Linked DNA regions of Homo sapiens. The protein of the gene in region 1 interacts with the protein of each later gene in a biochemical or structural test. Each region holds a gene or a part of one and is shown on either strand. Other genes may lie near its edges.

Region 1 (7,037 bases):
AGACACATCCCACTGGACGCAGGACAAAGTCACAGGATCCAAGGCCTCAGGCAGGAGCACCACCCTAAGGACCTTCCACTCACCTGACTGCTTCTCCTTCCTCTTTCTCCTCCACACACAGAAGCAGGCAAGGGTGCCAAGGAACAGTGCGCTTAGAATCACGATGATCACCAAAAACGGCCAAAATCTGAATTCTGAGGAATACAGAAGGCGTGAGAACTGAGCTGTCAGCTCGCTCTCTTCTTCCTTCCCACCTGCCTGCTGCAGGGGCTGCCTCAAAACCCACTTTTCTCTGTGTTGTGGCTGATTGCCTCGTGCTCTGAGAACTCACGGTCAAGGTTTTCTCTTTGCTCATTTGGTTAACCTCCTCTGAGTGATGCCAAGAGCATAGATATATCAGACAGGCCTGGCTCAAATTCTAACCCTGTGAGCTCTGCACTATTTATTTAACCTCTCTGGGCCTCTCAAGTCATCTTATTTTTGGAAGATGCCTCAGAGCCTCTTAGATTTTCTCACCTGTAAAAGGGGATAACGTTATCTACCTATAGGGGTTAATTACATGATCTAATACAGTTGCCCTCCAAAGTTTTGAGTTCCACAATGTGGATTCAATGAATTGTGGATCCAGAATATTCAGGGAAAAAAAATGCATGTGTATTGAATATGTAGAGGCCTTTTTCCTTGTCATTATTCCCTAAACAATACAGTATAACAACTATTTAAATAGCATTTACATTGTATCAGGCATTATAACTAATTTAGAGGTGACTTAAGTAAGGTATACAGAAGGATGTGTGCATAGGTTATATGCAAAAACTGCACCTGTTTATGCCAGGGACTTAAACATTCGTGGATCTTGGCATCTGTGGTTGCGAGGTGGGTCCTGGAACTAATTCGTCATGGATACTGAGGGACATGTAGCACAACAAATGTTACATTTATCCATTCCTTTGTTTTTAACTCAAAAAATACTCATTGTACAGGCAAGTTTTCCGTCTCACTTTTCCACTATTCCTTCCTTCATGGCTCTTCCTCATTTGAACTTCTACTTAAAAGATTTGTGTCACACATGTAGCCTGATATATAATCCAGCCAACAAGAGGAAGGAAAAGGAATTAAGTGTTCCAAGGGCTGACAAGGCTCTTTGCAAACATTATCTCATTTACTCTTAACAGCAATCCTGTGAGGTACTTATTATCACCCCCATTTTACTCAAGGGGGGAAGAAAATTGAGGCTCAGAGAGGTTAATGAATCTGCCAGAGATCACAGAGCTTCTTTTTTTTTTTTTTTTAAATAGAGATGGGATTACACCATATTGTCCAGGCTGGTCTCAAACACCTGGACTCAAGTGATCCACCTGCCTCAGCCTCCCAAAGTGCTAGGATTACATGTGTGAGCCACCACACCTGACCTCTAAGAGATCACAGAGCTTCTGAATGATGAAGCCAGTGTCCTAGTTCAGTGGCATGATCTTGACTCACTGCAACCTCCGCCTCCTGGGTTCAAGCAATTCTCCTGCCTCAGCCTCCTGAGTAGCTGAGATTACAGGTGCCCGCCAACACGCCCAGCTAATTTTTTGTATTTTTAGTAGAGACAGGGTTTCACCATGTTGGCCAGGCTGGTCTCAAACTCCTGACCTTGTGATCCACCCACCTCAGCCTCCCAAAGTGCTGGGATTACAGGGAGCCACTGCGCCCGGCCTGCCTCAGTCTTGTTTCTTTTTTGTCCACAAGTAGTTATTTTTGTTGCCCCATTTGGCTATAAGTTCCTTATGAATGAGAGCTGTATGGTTTTTTTTTCCTATAATGCCCATGCTGCTGGTACATTAAGTCCCTGTTTATGTAATAAAAAGTTGTGGAACGGTAACTCAGGTAACTCTTAGGATGAGCATAAGCAACAGCCCAAGAACTCATCTAGGTATCCCTGGGGTCATCCTGATGCTCCTGCTCCAGGCTACTGCTGCACAGTGTAGTTACCTCTTGAACTATGTGGCTTGGAGAAAGTTATCACTCAAGAGGAGAGGACAGTTCTCCATCAGCCTCTCCCAGGAAGAAAATAATGTTCAGGAGCCATTTCAGGACTGTCACTCACCAAACAACTATGCCCTCCCTCTGCAGAAGAAAAGCTTGCATCTCCCAGAAGGAAATAGGGATAACATTTTTTTCCAGAGTAGGATAGGCCTAGCTTTACAGGAACTGTGTGCCTGGAGGCCAGGGCTACCCTGGGAAGGGCTACAAGGCACTGGGAGAGGAGGCCAAGGGATTTTATCTCATACCACATCTGTCTTGCACATGAGCCTGGTTGCGGGGTCCAAACCTTCAGCGCTTGTTATAGCCCAGTGTGTTCCACTTACCCTGATGGGCATTCTGACAGTCCTGAGTGAGATTCAGGGTGTGGCTTTCCCAGCTAACAGGATTGCTGACATTGCAGGTATATGTGTGAGTGCCATTAATGTCAACCTCCTCGTCCAGGTAGGTGAGGTTCCCTGCTGTCTGGATCAGCTTGCTCCCTCTGTACCAAGCATAGGACACATTGCCATCCCTGGAGACCAAGCAAGACAGAGCCACTTGGCATCTCCCTCTGTCCAGGATCTTCCCCTGCCCCTGTAGGCGGGGTTTCTCAACTTTATCTGGAAGCAGAGATTCTGATCAGAAAGGCATTGGAAATACAGAACTTAGAGGCCTATAGGAATCAGAGAGGGCAGTATGAACAGTCCTGGAGACTTACCAAATACAAAAACCTGGAACGTGGCTGTCTGAACTTTTCCAGATATACTGGTGACCTCCAGGCAGTAGAGGCCACTGTCCTGCTGCTGAGCTGCCTTGATGAGAAGACTCAAGTTCTTGACTATAAAACTGAATCTATCATTGGAAGTATTGGAAGGCAAAGAGCCATTCTCCCACTTCAATATGTGATGAAATCCATTTTGTGAGGGCAGCAACTTCTTCCATGCAATGCTGTCAACCTTCGTCTGTATGCTGTTTGGTTGTAACTGAAGAGGCACTCCCGAGATGCTAACCACATGGTCAGCTGATCCCTGGCATCCTAGGAAAGAGAACCCAAGCTGAAAGTAGCGGGAAGAGTGTCAGGCCTGAGCAATGTGGGCAGCTGGATGTGACTTCCCTTAAGCCAATTGGGTGGGGATGAGTATGAGGAGCCCAGAACCTAGGAGCACCTTAAAGCATATCCCCTCCATCTGCCTCCCCTTGTCCCCAAGCTCTGTGTCCCTAGTCTGAGGGATCCCATAGACCAATAGCTAAAATCTTGAGTACTTACTATGTGACAGGCAGGTTTCACACTTTATACATTTTAACTATTTAAGTTAAAAGGTATGATGAGTTAAAAGAATGATGAGCCTGAAACCTAGTCAGTTTGGTGTTATGTTTTTGTTTTCTTTTGTTTTGTTTTCTAGAGACAGGGTCTCACTCTGTCACCCAGGCTGGAGTGCAGTGGCGCAATCACAGCTCACTGCAGCCTTGAACTCCTGGGCTTGAGGTGATCCTCCCATCTCAACCTCCCTAGTAGCTGGGAGCACAGGTGCTAGGGAGCTTATTTGTTTACTCTTTGTAAAGACAGCAGTTTGGCTTGAGAGGATAAATTCTTAACCATGATGCTATAAATACCACATCTAAGGTGACTCCCTCCAAGCAGTGCTGAGGCAACTACTAATGGCAAGTAGTGACTGTTGGAAATTCTGAATGGTCAGGCCCAGGAAGACTAACCGTCCAAGCTGAACTCATGGCCCCTCAACCATCCTCTCACAGAGCTGAATACATAATCCTCTCTCGTGGCACTTGGTTCATTGGATTTTGGTCATTACTTATTGATGTTTGCCAGTTTTTCAGTGATCAGAAAGTCTCCACAAAAATTTCTCCCTAGAAAACAATTTTAAAAATAAAACTACACTTCCCAGGCAGATCCCAGCACTTGCCTCTCAAAGAATCAAGATGAAACCTAATGAATATGGGGGTGTGACAACCTAGAGCAATTCTGTGCAGTCAGTGTACAAAACTGGAAGTTCCTACAGCCATTTTTAGTAATAAAGCTATGTGGCATGGCCCAGCAGGTGCAGGAAATTAAAAAGTCTCTCTGGGTGAGTTGGGGAGGCTCAGGGAGGATTTGGAAGAGAAAATAAGAGATGGGGAGAGTTTTACAAGTGGCTCCGTTAAAATGGAGGCTATTAAGAAGAGAGCAATTGAGACAGAGGGGTTTTTATATGTCCAGTGCATTATGAATGCAGTCTCTCCAAGCCACAGCTTCACCCTGGCATTTTCTCAAGAGACTAAGTAAATAATTAAAGGACTTGTAATACTATTTGTTTGATGAAATATGTTTCTTTGATCTTGATGCTCCTAAGACTAAAACACATAGGTTCCCATTTATATTTATATGACTTGTACTGGCTCTGCCCATTAGCAAACCAAAAGCTTCTCAAAAGCAGAGACTGTGCTGTGCATCTCTGTGTCTCTGTCTCCTACGATCCTAGCACTATTTATAAGAACAAGTCAACCTACCAAATATTGCACAAAGACCCTGAGAACAAAGGTGAATGGAAAAAATCATTACTAAACCTACAAGGAGGACATATACTGTCTTCATCAATTATTCAGTCCTTACTGAGTCCCACTGCAATCCAGCCCCTGAAGAGGCAGGGCCTCTTCATGTATAAGGCATGATTCCTGACTCCAGAGAGTTTGTGATCTGGAAACAGAACACTTTCATTCTACAGCATCCCCTTAATTGTTGAGATAAAAAATCATCGAAGGAATTCTAATTATGTAATGAAAATCCAGGTTAAGACATGCTAACCAATCCTCCCACTAAAAATAGCTAGAAGAAAAATGAACAACATGTAAAAGCACATTGTTAAAGTTATCAGAGAGTTTATAAAGCAGTGAAAAATTATGGGGCCAATATCTGGAAGAAGGAAATTCAGAGAGGTGAGATCAGCATTTCTGACTGTTGTTCCCTGGAGGCATCTTCTGATTCCATAAATGGCAGCTAAAAGGCTGAGAAGCTGAGCAGAGCTCACAATAAAACTCAAGGAACTAAGAGAACATGAAGTTCACGTCCCTCCTATTAGAAAGCGGGTATACATAAAATCCATCAGTGTTGAGGTTGGTACCACAGAGGGCTATACCCAAAGAGTAAGAGTGAACGAGAAATGAACAGCCCTCACAGGAACTGAAGCTCAATTTTGAATCATCACAACCCTGGATTGAACTAATGATCTGGAATCTCTGGTAGCCCTAACCTGGCTGCCAACTAGAGGCAAATATAAGTTATGACTAGAGGAAAATAACATCAACCAGAGCATTAAATTATTCCTAGAATGTTTCATACACAATATCCAAAGTGAAGTATAAGAAAAGGAAACATCTCCAAAAACCAACAGAAGAATAGAGACAACAGAAACCAACAAACAGGGCATCTACATAATAGAGTTGTCAGTCATAAACTTTAAAGTAATCATGTCTAATATGTTCAAGGAAATAAAACATAAGTTTAAGAATTTCAGCAGAGAACTAGCGTGATAGAATGCAAAAATACCATGTCCTTGCAATGTGACTTTACAGCTCCTTCTGTTATCAAGAAATGGGGTTCATTTCCCTGTCTCTTGGAACTGGGCTGGTCTTCATGATGAAACGCAGCAAAAATGATGTTCTGCTAGTTCTAAGCCTAGATCTGAAAAGGCATTGCACATTTCTACTTGTTCTCTTGGAACCTCATCTGGCTGACCTGTGAACAAGCCTAAAATAGCCTGCTGGAGAATAAGATATCACATGATACAGAGATAAGCCAACACAGCTAAGGCCATTCTAAATCAGCTAGCCCTGGCCTGGTGCGGTGGCTCATGCCCGTAATTCCAGCACTTTGGGAGGCCAAGGCCGGCAGATCACTCAAGGTCGGGAGTTCGAGACCACCCTGGCCAACATGGTAAAACCTCGTCTCTACTAACGATACAAAAATTAGCCAGACATGGTGGCACACACTTGTAACCCCAGCTACTTGGGAGTCTGAGGCACGAGAACTGCTTGAACCCGGGAGATGGAGCTTGCAGTGAGCCGAGATATCATGCCACTGCACTCTAGCCTGCATGACAGAGCAAGACCTAATCTCAAAAAACAATAAAAAATAAATAAATGAATCAGCCACCCGTGGCCAGTCTGGCAGCTGACCACACATGCATGACTGATGCAAGAGGAAACCAAAAGAACCACCTAGCTGAGCCCAGCCCAAATTGCCAACTAGCAGAATCACTAACTAAATAGGTAGTTGTTTTAAACTACTGGATTTTGGAGTAGGTCATTATGCAGCAATAGTTACCTGAAATTGGATTTTTTTTAAAGAATTCAATGAAAATTACAGAAATAAAATGTAAAATAACTGTAAAACAAACTCAATTGAAAGGTTAAAAAGGCCATTTAGATGCCATTGAAAAGAGAATTAGAAAACTGTTATAAAATATCCAGAGTGAAGTAAAGAAAAACAAAAGGATAAAAATACACAAGAAGGAGTGTAAAAGATATTTGAGATATAGCAAAAACAAAACAAAACCCCTAAACTAAGTGTAATTGGAAAGCAAGGAGACGAGAGAGGAAAGAGGAACTAAGCAAAAGAGATAAAAGATAAGAATTTCCCAAAACTGACAAAAGCCATCAAGATAGATTTGTAAAATGTGTTACAAACCCCAAGCAAGATCAAAACAAACCGACAAGCTGGGCACGGTGGCTCACGCCTGTAATCCCAGCACTTTGGGAGGCCCAGGTGGATGGATCACCTGACGTCAGGAGTTTGAGACCAGCCTGGCCAATATGACAAAATCCCATCTCTGCTAAAAATGCAAAAATTAGCCAAGTATGGTGGTGCACACCTGTAATCCCAGCTACTTGGGAGGCTGAGGCAGGAGAATCACTTGAATCCAGGAGGTGGAGGTTGCAGTGAGCCGAGATCACGCCACTGCACTCCAACCTGGGCAACAAGAGTGAAACTCTGTCTCAAAAAAAAAAAAAGAAAAAAAACAAACCAATGAACA
Region 2 (7,037 bases), on another chromosome or scaffold:
GAGACAGACAAGAGCAGTTAAAATGTTATGGGCTTATAGAATTTTTGATGTTTTTACAGAGATTTATTAAAAGTTATTAGAATAATAGATGAAAATTATAGCACATAAATTGTCACCTCTCATTTGACTTGCTGGCTACATCTACTTTCTCACTGCATTTTTCTTACATAACTTCTAATTGATTATATGGTTATGAACAGGTTGACTCATAACTCTGAGCTTCCAAACCCTGTCAAAAATTAAGAGGAAATCATACCTGTAGTACCTTGTGTACTTCTAGCTGAGGACTTCTTCTCAACTGGATACTGCAGAGGTATTACAATGCCTTGATCTGGCTTCTGAAATGCTGAAATGAGATTTTTTATTTTCCGGAAATATCTTTTATGTACCCCAGGTGCTGTCTGGAAAATAAAAGGCCAAGCAAATTATTTACCTATCTCATAATGATACAAAAAGACCTACAAAATGTGCTAGGGATGCTAAGAGAAGTAACATTTGTGTAACTTGTTGAAATATTTGAAAACATAAGGAAGAAGGAAAAACAACATTCCAGAAGAGCTTACTTTGGTTGGCTGAATTTCCCTGCAAGAGGAGCTAATGAGCTGTCATTTCAGTTCTCCCAAAGGTGGTATTAGTTTGTACAAGCTCTTGCTCATTGCCCTGCCCTTCCTGCCTGCTCCCCATCAGACATCTCAAACCTCTAAGGGTATACAGGCCATTACCCACAATGAATTCACCAACAGAGGGGATGCAGTTAAACAGGAAAAAACAAAAACAAAAACAAAAAAACAGATCCTACAGGTCATTAATAAAAAGCCTGAGGAACAACAACAAAAGAAAAACCAACAACCCATCCTCCCTGCCATCATCCCACAATATAAAATGCTACACAGGAAATTAAAAATTGGCTGTTATGATGCACACAGTGCACGGCTAGTTCAGTCCTCATACTCTTTCACCTCACAATATTTCCTGCGCCATTCTTCACATTAAATTTTTTCCTCCTTGGGAAACTTCCCTATACTCCCAAAATTGTTCTCTCCATCAGCACGTCACTGTAACAAGGTTTTCTCTATGACATGAAAATGAAAGACTATATAAGGTCACCTTTATTTATTTATTTGTGTGTTTTTAAAGAGACAGTTATTTGCAGGTGACTATTAAAATGTGTTCCTTTCCTGACATCAGTTGTCTTGCAAAGACACTGCCTGAAATCAACAACAATTTCCTGCAAAAGCTTATGAGCCAAGCTTCAGGCATCAGCTCAAACCTGTCATTTTACGTAAAATAAAATAGTATTGCTATGAGCAATTGAACAATGACTAGTTTTTTTTTTAAGTTGTTTTTCAGCTATTCCATCTGGTAGATTTTTGAGGTGGGAGCTGTTTGTTTTTTTAGCATTTAATGAGAAAACATGAAGGCGAGCATGAAGACTTCTGTCAGCTAGATAGTGGTATGCTGAAGATAGCATACTACACTATCCATAGTAACTCTCAGTCATTTCCTTATGTTGGGGTAATTTTTCATTGAAAACATGACAAAAATTCTTTTTAGCTCTATATTAGTGTTCCCCCATATGTTCACAGTAGATGTAGAACACTCTCTCACCCAGCTCCACCCCACTCTCTCACCTACCCTCCACCTTCCTAAAGCTCGATTGAGAACTCATCCAAAATAACATGGCCATTCTTGCAGAAGTCCAAACAGTTCGTTGGTTCCAAGATAGAGTCTCCAAATTGCAAATGCAGGTCATAGGCACAAATTGCCTCCTTATACTTTCCTCAGTGCACTTTTTCATTTTCAAAGCACATTCCTATCTCTTGCCTTCACTATTTCCTCACAAAATGGCAGTTATTGGCTGATTCAGTTATTCCCATTTGACAGATAAGAAAATATGAATGCAAAGAAATTAATCAGCTTGCCCAAAGTCACACAGACAACCAGAGGCAGAACTGGCTCAGAATCCCAGGACCCAGTCTCTTGCCTTTCAGATTAGAACTGGGCCAAACAGGATCTAGCGAAGCTAGGGTCATCAAACAGAAGAAAAACTATACACACCTAAAGTGTGGAAAGATTTCAAACCACACATCTTTTTAGCTTCTTGTGGCTTGTAAAGTCATTTATCAACAGAAGCATAGCCGGGCACAGTGGCTCACACCTGTAATCCCAGCATTTTGGGAGGCTGAGACCGGCGGACCACCTGAAGTCAGGAGTTCAAGACCAGCCTGGGCAACATGGTGAAAGCCTGGCTTTACTAAAAATATGAAAATTAGCCAGGTGTGGTGGCAATCCCGGCTACTTGGGAAGCTGAGGCACAGGACTCACTTGAACCTGGGAGGCAGAGGTTACAGTGAGCCGAGATCGGGCCATTCCACCACTCCAGCCTGAGCGACAGAGTGAGACTCTGTCTCAAAACAAAACAAAACAGAGAAGCAACATTTTTATGGGTACTGATATGTAGCTAACACTTGATTATCCATGCTAACAGAAATGAATAATAGCACTGGAAGTATGGAAGCTATTTGAATTGGGGATCTGATGTTTCATAAGCAAATGACTGGCCTATTTTACAGTGTTTTACTTAGATTAATAAGGACAATTATTTAACATCTGCTGATCTCCTGATCATATACCCAGTAAAGCCTGAAGACACTGATGTCAACAGGGTGATGTCAGTACATTTTTAATAATGTATTGCCAACAAATCACATATTAATAAATGAAAGTAGATTGTGGAATTATCTAAATTAACAATGTAACAAACTTTTAGTCTGAGTCATATAAGATAATACACTAGGCAAAGATTTAACCTAAAAGTCTCTCTAAAACTAGAAAAACACATGATATCTGTCTTTCATAATTCAGTGGGGCCAGGGTTTGATTTCATTACACTCTTTAAAACAAATCTCACTTACCTAGATTTCTAGCATAATATATGCACAGATGGTGGCATGCTACTGCCTTGATTTTTCCTGCAGCATGGCAAACTAAAACATTGTTCCAAAAATCAGTATTAATATCTATCATTTACCCAGTTTCGAAAATACATTTATCACAAGAATTGTACCACTGACAACTCTCATCCTGTCACTGAACTCAGCTATTCTTCAAATTTGCAAATCTCCCATACTGTCACCTCTTAGTTATCCATGGAAACATGTATTAGATCACAGCTGGTCTTCAATATGCTCTAGAGAAATTTTTTCCAGTCAGGTGGTATGAGCTCTGAGAATATACACTAGTTTAATTTTCACCTTAGAAAAGCACTGCTAAGAAGGTAAATTTAGTAGATAGAAAAAAATGCAATATGCATTTCAAAAATTAAAGAATTTTTTAAACTATTTTCTATTTGCGGATGTCATGCCAATCTTCTGCTCTCTTGGTGCAGAAAATTACAATATTATTACATAAACAACGTCAGATCAGACAACAGGATGAGGGGGCATTTGTGTTCAATAAGCCCTCTCTTCTTTAACATGATCACAAGCATGTAACAATCTCATATGATGTTATACTCAAAATGCAGGAAAACAAGTTGAAAAACAAAGTTGTTAAACCCTAAGCATTTAAGATCCTTTCCTTACATAATATTCTTCAGCAGCTGAAGGGTATTTCTCTGGGGAGAAGAGCTATTTCTGGCGAAATAATATACAAACGTGTGTGTGTGTGTGTGTGTGTGTGTGTGTGTGTGTGTGTGTGTTTGTCAGTATATTTTACACATAACTTTCTTCATAATAAAGTTTAATTTCTTATTCAATCATCTCTGCAGTGATACAGAGAATTTTTTAAATAAACAGGTATAAATAGTTTCAATTAGAAATGGTATAACTTTATCTTTAGTTAGTATTATAGTTTTAATGATCCTTACATAATACAGCAAAAGTGTGTTTGAAAACTTGGCCTAATTCATCTCAGTGGTTCAAAACATTTGTGGTCTGTAATTTATACTTTCCAACTTACTGATAAATCAGTAAACGTGAGAGCTATTTTAACTTCTTGAAGTCTAGACTTCAGAAAATTTTAAATGCACAGATTGAGTTATTAATAGGAGTTGTGGCAATTTTCAGGAGTTCACTTTTTTGAGGGCTCACTGTGTGCCAGGCCTTGTGGCAAACAGCTTCTTTATGTGTGTTATCTTATTTACTTTTCAAATTGAGCCTTGTGCATAAGGGAGGATTCTTAGGCTCCGTTTACAAATGAAGAAACTGGCTCACAGAAAAGTCAAGTAACCTGCCCAAGATCATAGACCTATCAGAGAGGAGGGGAGACCAGACCTGGAACCCAGATTCACCTGTTGACAAAGCCTAGTTTCTTCCACTCATAACTGTTTAATTTCAAGTTATAACTTCCCAAGTATATTGTAGTCTCTTAGAAAATAAGCATCATGTTTTTTAATCTCCCACGATACCAATACTCATATTGGTATCATTTGGTAAATAATTGTTCATTTAATTATTTTACCTACTTTTGATATGCTAAGATTTCACATAGTCACTAAAAGTTTGACATAATTCTTCAACTTTTTTATCTTTCTCCCAAAGTCATACAACTCTGCAAAATGATGGCTAAACAGGACTGGGACCAAAATTCTCTAAAGCTTTCTTAATGATCCATGAACAATTTTGGATTGGAGCTTTAGAGATTTAAACCTTATGAATACTTAATAATGTATAATTTGCTCTTTTATAAAACCAGCCTAAATTTCAAATACCTCCTTGACACCCCCAGAAGCAAAAATAAATACAACTATACCTCAGCACTCCAAGAACCTGTTTCTGTCTGGGACACTCGGTATGTATAAATGTAACCGTGATACCTGTGAAAGAATAAACTTCCATTACTGAAAGATTCCAAAAGAACAATGGATACTTTAAATTTGAGCTTAATATTACATATAAATGTCACATATACTAGGACACACGTATATGGTGTCATTGCATTCATAGGAAGTAAAGCATAGTGAATCTAACTTGTCTCCATATTGTATCTGCCCAACCACAGTTTCCAGTGAGATTTCTTTATCTTTTCATTTTTTGAAATATGGAAATTCATGCTCCTAAAGATTTGTCAAGTTGAGAGACCATTTGGACAGAAAGAAACTACAACAGGGACCTGTTGTAATTGATAAAACCATGAATTATTAGATAGTTTTAACAAACAATAGACTTATTTTTAAGTACATATCGAAACTTAAGGTGAAAACATTTCACTGGGATAATACACTATCAGGCCCACATAAATAATTATTAATATTAATAATATTTGTTATAAATATAATGGCAATAGTATAAGGATATAATACTATAAATTGAATATAACTATATTTTTATAAAATTACTATTATAATGTATAGCAATATAATATTGCCACAGTCATGCATCACTTACCAAGGGGGATACATTATGAGAAGTGCATCATTAGGTGATTTCGTTGTTGTGCAAACATCATAGACTGTACTTACACAAACCTATATGGTATACCACCTAGGCTATGTGGTATAGCCTATTACTCCAGGCTACAAACCTGTACAGCATGTTACTGTACAGAATACTGTATGCAATTGTAACATAATGGTATTTGTGTATCTAAACCTATCTAAACATAGAAAAGGCACAGTAAAATATAGTATAAAAGATAAAGAATGCTATACCTGTTGAGAGTACTTACCATGAATGGAGCTTGCAGGACTGGAAATTGCTCTGGGTGAGTCAATGAGTGAGTGGTGAGTGAATGTGAAGGCCTAGGACATTACACTACTAGAATGTTATGAACACTGTAAACTTAGGCTACACTAAATTTATTTTAAAATATTTATATTTCCCAGATCACGAGGTCAGGAGATCGAGACCATCCTGGTTAACACAACGAAACCCCATCTCTACTAAAAATACAAAAACTTAGCCAGGCATGGTGGCACGCACCTGTAGTCCCAGCTACTTGGGAGGCTGAGGCACTGAGGCAGGAGAATCGCTTGAACTCAGGAGGCGGAGGTTGCAGTGAGACGAGATCACGCCACTGCACTCCAGCCTGGGTGACGGAGCGAGATTGTCTCAAAAAAAAAAAACTGTATCGCTTCAATAATAAATTAATCTTAGCTTCAACTCTTTTACTTTATAAACTTGTAAATTTTTTTAAACTTTTTGACTCTTTTATAACACTTCGCTTAAAACACAAACACATTGTACAGCTGTACAAAACTGTTTTTCTTTATATCCTTATTCCATAAGCTTTTCTCTGTTTCAAAATTTTTATTTTATGTATTCTTTGCTATTTAAACTTTTTTGTTAAAAACTAAAACACAAATACGCACATTAGCCTAGGCCTACAGAGAGGGTCAGGATCATCAGTATCACTGTCTTCCACCTCCACATCTTATCCCACTGCAGGATCTTCAGGTGCAGTCACACACACGGAGCTGTCATCTCCTATGATATTCATATTCCAGAATGCCTTCTGGAATACCTCCTGAGGGACCTGCCCGAGGCTGTTTTACAGCTAACTTTTTTTTATATAAGTAGGAGTAGATTTTAAAATAATGATAAAATGTATAGTACAGTAAATACATAAACCAGTAACACAGTAATTTGTTATCATTATCAAGTATTGTGTACTGTATGTAATTGTCTGTGCTATACATTTTTTTCTTTTTCTTTTTCTTTCTTTTTTTTTTTTTTTTTTTTTTTTTTGAGATAGAGTCTCGCTCTGTTGCCCAGGCTGGAGTGCAGTGGTGCAATCTCAGCTCACTGCAACCTCCGCCTCCCGGGTTCAAGCAATTCTGTTTCAGCCTCCCGAGTAGCTGAGGCTACAGGTGCATGCCACCATGGCTGGCTAATTTTTGTATTTTTAGTAGAGACAGAATTTCACCATATTGGTCAGGCTGGTCTTGAACTCCTGACCTCAGGTGATCCACCCACCTCAGCCTCCCACAGTGCTGGGATTATAGGTGCGAGCCATCACACCTGGCCTGTGCTATACTATTATACAGCTGACAGCACAGTCGGTTTGTTTATACCAGTGTCATCACAAATACATAAGTA
Region 3 (7,037 bases), on another chromosome or scaffold:
TATCAAACACCTGAAATGTGGCTGGTACAAAATGAGACAGGTTGTGAGTGTAAAATACACATTGGAATTGTGGCCTTGGTAAGAAACACAGACTGTAAAATATCTAATAACCTTTTACATTAAATATCTATTGAAATAATTGTATTTTGGATGTATGAAATTCAATAAAATCTATTATTGAAATTAATTTCACTTGTTTTCTTTTTAATGTGGCTACTAGAAAATTTGATCTATTGATTGTAATAAATCAAATTGTAATCTATTTTGATCATAAATCTATTTATTTATGATCTATTTGGCTCCCATCATTTTCTTTTCTTCCTTTCTTTCTTTTTTTTTTTTTTTTTTTTGGAGACAGAGTCTCACTCTGTCTCCCAGGCTGGAGTGCAGTGGCGCGATCTCTGCTTACTGCAACCTCCGTCTCCCAGGTTCAAGCAATTCTCCTGTCTCTGCCTCAGGAGTAGCTGGGACTACAGGCACCCACCACCACACCCAGCTAATTTTTTGTATTTTAGTAGAGACGAGGTTTCACCGTGTTGCCCAGGTTGGTCTCAAACTACTGAGCTCTGGCAATCTGCCTGCCTCAGCCTCCCAAAGTGCTAGGATTACAGGCGTGAGCCACGGCACCCGGCCCCATTTTCTTTTGGTTGGACAGCTCTGGATAGGCCATAGGCTGAAGGGACCCCTGGATATCACCTGGCTCAACCTTGTCAGGACCCAGTGGGGGAGTACACAGGCTTTCTGCCCTCCAGCCCTCTCCACTGCACCTAGCTCTCCAGCCCTGCCCCTCTGCCCGCAACCTGGGAGGGTGACCTGGAACTGAGCAACTGGTTCCAGTCCCGACAGCCTGGTTTCAATCCCTGCCCACCACATTCTTATCCCGGGGCCTTGGGCAAGTTATGGATCATCTCCATAGACTCTGTTTCTTCATCTGCAAATGGGAATAATAAGAGTCCCTGCCCGAGTGTTTGTATTTTTTTTTCTAATTTGAGACAAAGTCTGTGTCGCCCAGGCTGGAGTGCAGTGGCAAAATCATGGCTTTCTGTAGCCTTGACCTCCCAGATTTAAGTGATCCTCCCACCTCAGCCTCCTGAGTAGCTGGGCCCACAGGCATGCACTACTATGCCATTTTTTTTTTTTTTTTTTTTGTAGAAATGGTACCTTCCTATGTTGCCCAGGCTGGTCTCAAACTCCCGGTCTCAGGAGGTCCTCCCACCTTGGCCTCCCAAAGTGTGGGATTATAGGCATGAGCCATCGTGCCTAGCAGGGTGTTTATATCAAATGAGATGATTCAAAGCATTCAGCACACAGCCTTGCTTAGGGCACACTCTTAGAAAGGCCTTGGTTGTTCTAAGGACTTTTTTTTTTTTTTGAGATAGAGTCTCGCTCTGTCACCCAGGCTGGAGTGCAGTGGCATGATCTCAGCTCACTGCAACCTCCACCTCTCGGGTTCAAGCGATTCTCCTGCCTCAGCCTCCCAAGCAGCTGGGATTACAGGTGCGCACCACCACATCCAACTAATTTTTGTATTTTTAGTGGGATGGGATTTCACCATGTTGGCCAGGCTGGTCTCGAACTCCTGACTTCAAGTGATCCACCGGCCTCGGCCTTCCAAAGTGCTGGGATTACAGGCGTGAGCCTACCACACCGACCAGCATTTGCTGTTTCTGTCCTGTGCTAATTATGGCTGGGAGCCATTTCAGGGGAGTGGAGGAGGGAGGCTGGCCCCAGGGCAGAGAGGAGGGGAAGGAGGGGAAGGAGGGGAAGGTGTGTGTGAGCTGCACAGCCCAGAAGCTGCCCTGCAATGGTCATAAAGCTGGGACTCTGGCCAGGCCTTTCTCCTCACCCCTCAGATGCCAGTCGCACTGCCCTTCTCAGGGAGGCCCCTGACCTCTGCTCTCTGCCCACGCCACACACTCCTTCGCCAGTGCACTCCCTCCCAGGAACTGGCTTCTTTTCCTCCCGTCTGCTCATGCAATGTGTGTCAGGTCCACATGAGCAGAGCTCCTGCCTGCTCAGAAGCTGACCCAGTGCCCAGCCCTGAGGCCAGGATGACCAGGAACTGGTCTGGCTGAGGGGGTGGTTTTATGTGGCCCTAGGAGGTCCGAGCATATTCTGCACAGCGGGGCAGGGGCTGGTGGGAGGGACTGGAAGCCCAGGGAGCGATGGAATCCACACCCGGGGCGGTTGCTGGGCAGCAGGAGGGCGTGGGCGCAGCCAGGATAGCCACGCCAGCCCCACCCTTCTACTGTGGCAGGAAGGAAGGGGGACGAGTGGGGGTGGACGCGGGCAGTTTGCGGTTTGTCAGCAGAAAAGTTGAGAGAGCTTTGCACGTTCGATTGCAGCAATTCTTCTATTTCCTGTTATCTCTGGGACTCTGTCCTGTTCCTGACTCCACTGACTCCAACCACCAAAAACCACTGGCCTCGCCCCTGATGCCAGCCCTGGAGCCCTGTGTGTATACCACCCCACGTGCACACACGGGCACACACACACACACACACAAACACACAGAGAGGCTCTAGCACTTATGCACATGCACTCGGACACCCACCCTCACATACCTAGACTCTCATAAACACACACTCACAAACACAGACACATGGACTCACAGATACTCACACACTCATAGATATGGGGTGGTACACTCATACATGGACTCACATACATAGACTCACATAAACACACTCACAAACACATGCATGGACTCTCACACACTCATAGATACGGGGTGGTACACTCACACACAGATGCACATAAACACACACTCACAAACACACATGCATGGACACACACACATAGACACTCACACACTCATAGATATGGAGTGGTACACACACACGGACTCACATACATAGACTCACATAAATACACTCACAAACACATGCATGGACACACACACACTCATAGATACGGGGTGGTACACTCACACACGGACTCACATATGTAGACTCACATAAACACACACAAACACACATGCATGGACTCACACATACAGACACTCACACACATAGATATGGGTGGTACACTCATACACGGACTCACATACATAGACTCACATAGACACACTCAAACACATGCATAGATTCACACACATATAGACACACACTCATAGATATGGGGTGGTACGCTCACACATTGACTCACATAAACATGCTCACAAACACACATCCATAAACTCTCACACACCTACACAGGCTCACACACTCACATGCACGCTGTCACTCACACAAACTCACATACACAGACCTACTCACACACACATCCTACACAAACACACAGGCTTGCACTCCTACACTTATGAAGACTTCTTGCCCTTGTTACTGCTCTCTGAAGCCAGCAACTCTCCACTGACACCAGCGTTTCCAGATCCAACCTGGTGCACAGGGACCGAGGGCAGGGGCCAGCCACCTCCCGCCTGTGCTTGTAAGGAAGGTCTCACTGGTAACACAGTCACTCCCATTCGCTTTCTGGGTTGCCTATGGCTGCTTTCCCACCAGAAAGGCAGAGAGGAATAGTGTTGAGTGGCCTGCAAAGCCTGAAATATTTACTGTCAGGCCCTTCCCTTTCCTGCAAAAGTTGGCCAATGCCTCTTCTAGGTTCTTGCTTCTTAAAATGGGTCCCACGGGCCGACCAGCAGCGCTCAAGTCGCCTGGGAACCTGTCAGAAACTTGGAACCCTGAGCTCCACCCAAGATCTACTGGGTCGGAACCTGCATTTTAGCTAGATCCCTGGGACTGCTGGTGTAGACCCTGAGTGAGTTTCAGCCAGGGAGACCAATCACCCCTATTTGCTGAGGACTGAGCCAGGATCTGAGGATGTGAGGCTCTCTGTTTTTAACCCGGGGAACTACTGGTGGGATCAGGATGATGTGGTCGCGAGAGTTGAGGCAGAGGGTGTGGGAGGAACACAGGGTCCCCGCCCTGCTCACCCAGTGTGTTTGCAATGCCTGTCTTCACGTTGTCAGTACAGATGTGGCTGATCCGGTTCTCGTGCTCAGGCTTGGCCAGCACCACGATGCGGATGTTCCAGAGCGTGTGGATGGCGACCTGGTGGGAGGACAACGTTGCAATACTCGGCCCAAGTGTAGGGTGTGAACCAGGGCACAGTGATTCACACCCAGCCCCAGCCGCAGCCCCTGGGTATGGGGTATCCTGTCTGTAATCCCAACCCTTCGGGGGACTCCCAGCGATGCTTGATAGGCGAGACAAAACATCCTAAAGATGAGAACCGGGGCTGACCAAGGGTGGGAAGATAGAGGACTCAGTGGTTTTCAGCAATACCCCACAGATCCCATTTATTTCTGAATACAGACGCATCTCTCAGTGGGGGCCTCCAGACATCCTTGAAAACTGAGAGCTGATAGGCTGAGCCCACCCTTGCCTCTGAGACAGCCCAGCCGAGCAAAGATTCTATCCCGGAAGCCCACCCAGCGTGCAGCCAGCTGCTCACTGTTTTAAAAGTCACACTGGTGATTTCTTGCAGGGAGTGTTTGAGGATCTCCAGCCACTCCTTCTCACTCAGGGGGTCCTCTTGGGTGCCGATCACGTAAATGTCATGGGGGATGTAGTCCGCAGAGTCGTCCCGCGTCTTTCCCTGCCCCTTGGAGAGAAACCAGGACGTGATCTTCTTGGGAGGGGGGGCGTTACCTTCAACAGCAAAACCCAACACCAAGTGAGTCAAAGGCACATCGAGTCAAAGCATTAGGAGAATTCAAAACAGAGGGCGGGAGTGTGAGGGAGGTCACGTCATTACACAAGACCATCCAGGCAGCCCAAAGAAATGCCTGCAATGGAGGCCTGGGCGCCAACCTCACCCAGGATGTCGGTTAGGGCTAGAGCTCAGTTAAGCCTCTTTTTAAACGTAATGTCAAGTTTCAAGGTATAGAAACACCAGAAGATTCCCTGATGTCAGACACTGTCCTGCACTTTGAGGCTACGATAATTGAGACACAGTCCTGTCCCTCAAGGAACTCACATCCTATTCTCAAGACAGCCAAGGGAACTGACAAGTTTTAGATGGCGGGTTCTAACCCATTGTTGGGAGACAACAAAGTCTCCCTTGCAAGACAGATCCCAGCCCAGAGCGGAGGGATGCCTGGGTGTGAGCCAGAGAAACGGGAGAGTGTGGAAACTCCTCCGCATTCCCATTTCAAAACTGAGTTGAAGAAGCTCAATCAAGAAATTTTGAACGGTTCTCCCTACAATGCCCTTGAAGGATGAGCAAACTTTGTTCCTCAAAGAGATGAGCTTCTTGCCTTACAAGTGCAAAGAAGCCAAGCATTGGAGTAAATGGACTGTGGCTAAATTCTGCTCCCCCAAGAGGCTCAAAGTGGGTGCCCGAACCCCCGGGCTGGTGGGTCCCCGGCCCTCCTGCGGCATGGCCTCAGCTGGCTCCTTCCATACTCTTCTGTGGGAAGGGCACCCCTGCCCTTGTGTCATGGACATCCCTGACCATGTCCAGAGGGAGGAGATCAGGCAGACTATTGTCTCTTATTAGAAACACTGAAAGGGACCGAAGGGGACAAGTGACCCCCTGGGGCACTGGCCCGGGCTCTACTCCACGGCTGCTGTGGCCCTGGGACACGAGTGACAAGCTGTCACTTCACTTCCAGGAGGCCCCTGCCAGCCACTGCTCACCCTCTTCCTCCCAGACTCCTCTCAGGACAAGGGTAGGGGACACACGACACCCAGTGAAATTCCAATTTCAGATAAACTGGTAGTTTTTAGAATAAGTTTATCTGGATGTCTTCTATCTAATTTATTTCTACCTGAACACTTACACTAAAAAATTATTTAGTATTATTTATATTTAGTAGAGTGCATGTGTTTAGTAAATACACAATATATATGTTTAATACAAAATATATTTAGCATATATTTAGTATATTATTAGCTGTATGCTTAAACTAATATTACTTAGTATAATTCATATTTAATATAATAATTACACTTATTTAGCATATGTATATATACTATATATTCAGCATAATGTCTATGAGCATATATATTTAGTATTTATTTGTTTGTAGCTAAACATATACTAAAAAAAATTGTTTCTATGAAGTTAAAATTTAACTGGGCATCCTTTGTCTACGTACCTATCTCTCTGTCTCTCTCTGTCTCTCTCCTGATAAATCTGGCAACCCTACTCAGGGTGGACTTCTTTCTCTCAGGCCTGGGGCCCCTTGGTGAGCTGCCTAGGGCTGGCAGGGTTCCCATGAGCCCCTTCACCTAGATATTCAGACTCTTTCCCTAAAACTTTCCAATTTAGACATACAGAGTAACCCACGCCAGCTGCTCTTGGGGTACGATAGTCCCAAAGCTCGTTTTTCTTACCCATCATCTCAGGAAAAGGGTGGAATTCCTCAGGAAGGAGGTTGTGCGGGTGGGCTGGGGCTTAGGGGCAGGGCCCTGGGGCAGGAAGGAAGGGGACATGGATGTCGTCACTCCACCCCACCTTGAGGATGCCTGAGTCAGGAAAGCAGAAGCAGAGGGGGTGACTGCAGGGAGGGGGCGCGCGGACCCACCCATGTTCCAGGTGCCGATGAAGATGGTGATCATGTCGGGCTCCGGCTGCTCTGAGTGCTTGTTCTTCATCTGCTGCAGGAGCTGGCAGAAGCCTTCTCTCTTCTAGGGATGGAAGGGCAGACAGACTTAGAAAGGCCTCTGCCTCCCTGCACATTACACTTTGCAAAGGACTTGGTCAGCTTCAAGAAAACTGAGAGGAGCGTAAATCAGTGTGAACTTCCAGGACAGCAACCTGGAAACATGTGTCCAAAGTCATAAGCGAGTGGCTTCTGGCCTAGACACTCCCCTGCAAAGGTGCGACTTTAACAAAGTGATCAGGAGCTGCGCAGAAGTCCAACCCTGTCACGGCTCTGCAGCACAGGCCTCAGCACAGAAAAAAATCAGAAGCAACCTTACTGTCCAGCCTTAGGAGATTCATTAATAATGTATCAGAGGGCCAGGTGTGGTGGCTCATGCCTGTAATCCCAGCACTTTGGGAGGCCGAGGTGGGTGGATCACCTGAGGTCA

Evidence for each region.
Region 2: the proteins of CD244 (region 1) and SH2D1A interact in a biophysical measurement, tested with the Homo sapiens proteins (2 studies listed by IntAct).
Region 3: the proteins of CD244 (region 1) and INPP5D interact in a biophysical measurement, tested with the Homo sapiens proteins (2 studies listed by IntAct).

The regions. Positions count from the first base shown.
Region 1 is NC_000001.11:160,838,856-160,845,892, forward strand, and holds part of CD244 (natural killer cell receptor 2B4 isoform 1 precursor), read right to left. Parts: intron 3,047-7,037; coding exon 2,729-3,046; intron 2,646-2,728; coding exon of another isoform or gene 2,631-2,645; coding exon 2,355-2,630; intron 195-2,354; coding exon 84-194; intron 1-83. UniProt on the Homo sapiens protein: Heterophilic receptor of the signaling lymphocytic activation molecule (SLAM) family; its ligand is CD48.
Region 2 is NC_000023.11:124,363,540-124,370,576, reverse strand, and holds part of SH2D1A (SH2 domain-containing protein 1A), read right to left. Parts: intron 4,817-7,037; coding exon 4,753-4,816; intron 402-4,752; coding exon 257-401; intron 1-256.
Region 3 is NC_000002.12:233,161,319-233,168,355, reverse strand, and holds part of INPP5D (phosphatidylinositol 3,4,5-trisphosphate 5-phosphatase 1), read right to left. Parts: intron 6,633-7,037; coding exon 6,530-6,632; intron 4,650-6,529; coding exon 4,453-4,649; intron 4,050-4,452; coding exon 3,932-4,049; intron 1-3,931. UniProt on the Homo sapiens protein: Phosphatidylinositol (PtdIns) phosphatase that specifically hydrolyzes the 5-phosphate of phosphatidylinositol-3,4,5-trisphosphate (PtdIns(3,4,5)P3) to produce PtdIns(3,4)P2, thereby negatively regulating the PI3K (phosphoinositide 3-kinase) pathways.